2 separate regions of the Homo sapiens genome follow, and region 2 is linked to region 1. The links come from fine-mapping of genetic effects on gene expression. A gene starts in region 1. The other region holds a variant in brackets. All regions are shown on one strand. Distances are between the middles of the regions.

Region 1 (2,900 bases):
TTACAGCCATCATCATCTACTTCTTTTTATTTTTATTTTTATTTTTTATTTTTTTTAATTGAGACTGAGTTTCACTCTTATTGCCCAGGCTGGAGTGCAATAGACTGATCTCGGATCACTGCAACCTCTGCCTCCTGGGTTCAAGCGATTCTCCTGCCTCAGCCTCAGGAGTAGCAGGGATTACAGGCATATGCCACCATGCCCAGCTAATTTTGTATTTTTAGTAGAGATGGGGTTTCTCCGTGTTGGTCAGGCTAGTCTCGAACTCCTAACCTTAGGTGATCCGCCCGCCTCGGCTTCCTAAAGAGCTGGGATTACCGGCGTGAGCCACTGCGCCCAGCCCATCATCTACTTCTTAACGTGGTTGTGGTCAGATTCCACCCCAACTATGCGCTCCTTGAGAGTGGGGACTGGGAGGGGTTCAGCTTTGAATCCTCAGAGCCCAGGGCCAGGTACATAGTAGGTGCTCAGTAAAATACCTGCTGAACACTCAGGGAAGGGAGGGCTGTGCCGGGCCTCAGAGGAGATGTTAAGAGAGCAGACAGGGTGGCCAGGCATGGTGGCTCACACCTGTAATCCCATTACTTTGGGAGGCTGAGGCGGGTGGATCAACTGAGGTCAGGAGTTTGAGACCAGCCTGGCCAACGTGGTGAAACCCCGTCTCTACTAAAAGTACATAAATTAGCCGGGTGTGGTGGTGGGGGCCTGTAGTCCCAGCTACTCGGGAGGCTGAGGCAGGAGAATCAGTTGAACCTGGGAGGCAGAGGTTGCAGTGAGCTGAGATCACGCCACTGCACTCCAGCCTGGGCGACAGAGCGAGACTCCATCTCAAAAATAAATATATAAATAAATAAAAATAAAAAAGAGAAAGGACAGGGTGCACAGAGCCAGGACCCCACCCCCTCCTGGTCTGGACCACCCTGGGCCATCTCCTAAGCTTGACACTCTCAGGCCTGAGGCTGTCAGGCCAGGGCGCTTTGACTATCCCCTGCCTGCCCCTGAACGCGGCCAAGCCCGAGGCCTTAGCCAAGCCCTGCAGCCTCAGGCTTGGCGCCCGGCCCAGCCTTTCTTTAGCCTTCCCGAGGAGCCAGCGAGAGAGCGCTGCAGCAGCCGCAGTCCTTGCTTCCGGGGAAGGCCCGGGTGGGGCCAGGGCCTGTGGTTAAGTCAGTGGCCCTCTGCAGACGCGCACGCAGCAGGAGCCACGCCCTGGTCCCTGCCCGGGAGTGGCCTGGTCTCCCCCAGCTCTGATTCCCTGAAGGACCCTGCACCTCCTCAGCCATCTTCTCTGGGCACCCCCTGAGCCCAGCCTGCTGGCCACAGGCCCCTTCCCGCCAACTTGTGGGCCTAGCTCATCATCAAACTATTTTCCACTGGCTTCCCCCAATCTCTGCCACAGCACAATTTTGGTGGGGAGGTGGAGAGGGATGAAGGAGAATAGGAGGTGGAGCTTGGACTCTGGCCGGGGGCGGCGGGGTGAGGGGGGGCAGCAGCTCGCCACTCTGATTGGTCACCTCTGCTCCAAAACTGGCTTCAAAATTCCACGGACTCCGCCCCCAGTGGCCCCCAGCCCTATCCTGACTTGCAATTGGCTGAACTTTCAGGGGGCGGGGCTCACCCGGTCCGGTCCAGTTAAAAGGGTGGGAGCGTCCGGGGGCCCATCTCTCTCGGGTGGAGTCTTCTGACAGCTGGTGCGCCTGCCCGGGAACATCCTCCTGGACTCAATCATGGCTTGTGTGAGTGTGGGGACCCCCCCCCAAGGTCCAGGGGATAGGGCAGGAACTGATGGCCAGAGGAGAGCTGGGCAGATCGGGAGCAGATTCTAGCCCCAGCTGTGTGGCCTGGAACCAGTGCCTTCTCTTTTCTGGACCTCAGTGGCCACATCTGTAAAATGGGGGTGGGCGCCATGGTCCCTCAAGGCCTTCTCTGCATTGATAATTGTCTGGATTCCTCCAGGGTCTGAAAGCACAGTTATTTCTGCCCAGGGTTGACATTCTGCAGCTCTCTGAGAAGTGAGCGTGGGAAGGGTGTGGCCAACTGGGGGACACCCAGGCCACTATCCCTTTCCCCCTCCTCCACCCCAAAGAGCCTCCTGTCCCCTCCCCCCTGCAGCTGTCCCGGTCACCAGGCCAGGGCAGAGTTACCCTCTGCTCCAGAGAACGCTGAAAAGTTGCCAGGACCCGAGACAAGCTGCCCAGGATGGGCCCTTCTAGGTCGGGGGTGGAGGGTGGTTGTGTCCAGGCTGGTGGCGGGGGGGGCGGGGGAAATTCCCTTCCACCACCCCCAAGCTGGGAGGTTGGGGTGGCAGGGAGGTGAGAATCTTCCTCGGGCCCCAGGGAAAGGGTTCAAGTTTCTGGCAGAAGAAACCACTCAAACCAGTTAACTCTTGCCCACCCACTCGGGGTGCCAGGGAACAGCAGTGCCCAGCAGTTTGCTCAATCTTGTTAACCCTGAGCCAGCCCAGCCACAGCCCGACTGCAGGGCTATTCTCCCTAATGCAGAGAGGCCGTGTTTTTCAGGGTCTCCTCTCTAGCCCCTGGGCCTCTTTGCAGAGAGGGGCTTGAAGGAGAATAGTGGGGTCGCCCGCCCCTAGCCACTTCCTCTCCAGCAGAGGGGCCGGCCCCTCCATTCAGTGTGACGGTGGGCCAAGTGTCGGCCCCTCCCCAGCCTGATCCTCTCCATCTGCGATGGGACAGAGCACCCCATCTCCCAAGTCACTCTTGAGTCCAAAATTCCCAAGCCAATCTGCAAAATCTTCTAGAGCCTGTCTTCTAGAACCTTCACGTTACAGACTGAAGCCAACCCCGGTGGGAATAGGGACTTTCCCAGGACCACATAGACAATCGGAGGCTGGAAATTACAGCTCAATCCTTTCCCCAGGCTTCCCCTTGGCTTGGTCAGAG
Region 2 (2,900 bases), 130 kb after region 1:
TTCATGTATGAGTGAAAACATGCAATATTTGTCTTTCTCTGCCTGGCTTATTTCAGTTAATATGATGACCTTCAGTTCCATCTGTGTTGTTGCAAATGACAGGATTTCCTTCTTATTGGTGGCTGAATAATATTCCCTTTGTTTATATACCACATTTTCTTCATCCATTCATCCATTGATGTGCGCTTGGGTTGACTCCATATTTTGGCTATTGTGAATGGTGCTGCAATTACCATGGGAGTGCAGATATCTCTTCAATATGCTGATCTCCTTCCTTTTGGATATATACCGAGTAGTGGGATTCATCTGAACCATTTTTTTTTTAGACTAGTCAAGTTCAGTAGTGAGAAGGGAGCAAAAAGTAGAACAAGGGGCCAGGCGTGGTGGCTCATGCCTGTAATCCCAGCACTTTGGGAGGCTGAGGTGGGTGGATCACTTGAGGTCAGGAGTTTGAGACCAGCCTGGCCAACATAGTGAAACCCCGTTCCACTAAAAATACAAAAATTAGCTGGGCGTGGTGGTGGGAGCCTCTAATCCCAGCTACTCGGGAGGCTGAGGCATGAGAATTGCCTGAACCCAGGAGGCAGAGGTTGCAGTGAACCGAGATCGCGGCACTGCACTCCAGCCTGGGTGACAGAGTGAGACTCCATCTCAAAAAAAAAAAAAAAAGTTAGCCGGGCGTGGTGGCGCACACCTGTAACCCCAGCTACTCAGGAGGCTGAGGCAGGAGAACCGCTTGAATCCAGGAGGCGGAGATTGCAGCAAACTGAGATCACGGCACTGCACTCCAGCCTGGGCAACAGAGTGAGACTCCGTCTCAAAAAACAACAACGAACAACAAAAAATACAATTGCAAACCACCACCATTTGACACTGCCTATATCCACCCCCAACCCTGCTCCAGTTGTTTCTTTGCAATTGCCACTTTCCAGCATACTATATAATTTACTTTTTTTTTTTTTTTTGAGATGGAGTTTTGTTCTTGTCGCCCAGGCTGGAGTGCAATGGCGTGGTCTCAGCTCATTGCAACCTCCGCCTCCCTAGTTCAAACGATTCTCCTGCCTCATTCTCCCAAGTAGCTAGGATTACAGGGGCCCCCCACCACGCCCGGCTAATTTTTGTATTTTCAGTAAAGACAGGGTTTCACCATGTTGGCCAGGCTGGTCGCAAACTCCTGACCTCAGGTGATCCACCCACTTCGGCCT[C/T]CCAAAGTGCCGGGATTACAGGCGTGAGCCACCGCACCTGGCCTAATTTACTTCTTTATGTAGTCTATTGTGTATCTATCTTTTCCAGGGAACCTCAGCTCCACAAGGGCAGGGCTCTCTTGTCACTTTGGTTTATGGCCATATCACAGAGCCCATCCCAGTGCCTGGCACATATTAAGGAATGCATTAGGATTCCAAAACCAGCCAGGAGCGGTGGCTCATGCCTGTAATCCCAGCACTTTGGGAGGCCGAGGCGAGTGGATCACGAGGATAGGAGTTCAAGACCAGTCCGGCCAAGATGGTGAAACCCCGTCTCTACTAAAAATACAAAAAATTAGTTGGGCGTGGTTGTGGACACCTGTAATCCTATCTATTCGGGAGGCTGAGGCAGAGAATTGCTTGAACCCGGGAGGCAGAGGTTGCAGTGAGCCGAGATCGCGCCACTGCACTCTGGCCTGGGCGACAGAGCAAGACGCCATCTCAAAAAAAAAAAAAAAAAAAAAAAAAGATTACAAAGCCCAGAATGCCACAAGACCACAGGTGGTGCAGTGAACAGGGCATTGCCTTGAGAGTCTATCATCCCTGGGCAAGTCATTAAACATAGGGGTGGGGGTGGGAGCCTCCTGTCTGTAACGTGGAGGTGTCACGTGCCAAGGGCTCAGGCACACGCGCGCGCACGCACAAACACACCCATTAGTAAGGACACGACCCCTGGCATTCTAATGCGATTTATACTTTTCCATGAAGGAATTCATTTCCCCCTCTCACTAACCCCAGAGACAGGTAGAGCCGACAGGTGGAAGAACTGAGGCCCGAGAGAGACAGCGGGGGACCCTCCCCGCGCCACGGCACAGCAGCTGTCCGACCCCCTCCTCACGCCCGGGGGGCGCGACGGCTGCCGAGGGTCGCGGGCAGGGGGCGCGGCGCCGGGGACTACATTTCCCAGGAGCAGTTGCCGCGGTTCCGCCGTTCCTGGGGTTTCAAGAGCCTCGCGTTAAAGGGGGCGGGGGAGGTTGCGCAGTCCGCCAGCTGGAAGATGGCTCTGCGCCCGGTGGGGACCCGAGAGCCGCCTGCCTGGGTGCCCAGGCGGGGTCCGGCTGCAGTGAAGAAGCCCCCCAGCTCTGCAGTGTCCCTGAGGGGAGGCGAGGCGAGGCGAGGCGAGGCGAGGCCAAGCCAATTGGAGGCCGTCTTTCCTCGTCTTGCCCGCCTCGGCTTCGGCCTCTGCGCCCAAGCCCCAGGGAACCCCCTCCCTTCCCCTCCAACTCCCCGGAACAGGGGAAGGGGCGGTGAACCTCGCCGCCTGGCGGGAGAAGGGGTGTCCACTAGCTGGAAGCCCCTGCAACCCGAGGCAACCCCTTTCCCCAATTCTGGCTTCAGTTCCGGGAATTTACAGGTCGCTGGGATGGGCGGGGAGAAGGGACAGGAGAGATACAAAATGAAATGAACGCCCAGGTGTCAGGGAGCTGAGCCTTACAGTACCCCGCCCCCAATCCATCCTTCTAAGTCCCGGGCCTCCGCGGTAAAATAGGGGTGATGGGGATAGTGATCAAAGGCAGGAGGCGCAAAGGATCCAGAAACCGGTGGGGAGCACTGTGCAAACTGTAAAGCGCTGTGCAAATAAAATTATTGATCGTCGTGTCATTGGATTCATCCAGTCTTTAAGACATGCACGGATCTGGGGCGGGGGATGGGGTG

The links. PIP is the estimated chance that this variant, and not a neighbour inherited with it, causes the effect.
Region 2: its variant is fine-mapped to the expression of LGALS1 in whole blood (INTERVAL, PIP 0.94).

Annotation. Positions count from the first base shown.
Region 1 is chr22:37,673,979-37,676,878 of GRCh38, forward strand. LGALS1 (galectin 1) reads left to right here and starts at 1,658. Exons shown (of 4, transcript NM_002305.4): 1 at 1,658-1,733. The coding sequence starts at 1,725. RefSeq lists a silencer at 1,461-1,600.
Region 2 is chr22:37,800,270-37,803,169 of GRCh38, forward strand. No RefSeq gene overlaps it. Among named protein-coding and RNA genes, the nearest start is that of H1-0, 3.5 kb to the right of the region's middle. RefSeq lists a cis regulatory region at 1,805-2,900 and a silencer at 2,104-2,153. The variant C/T (reference allele first, on the strand shown) is at 1,206.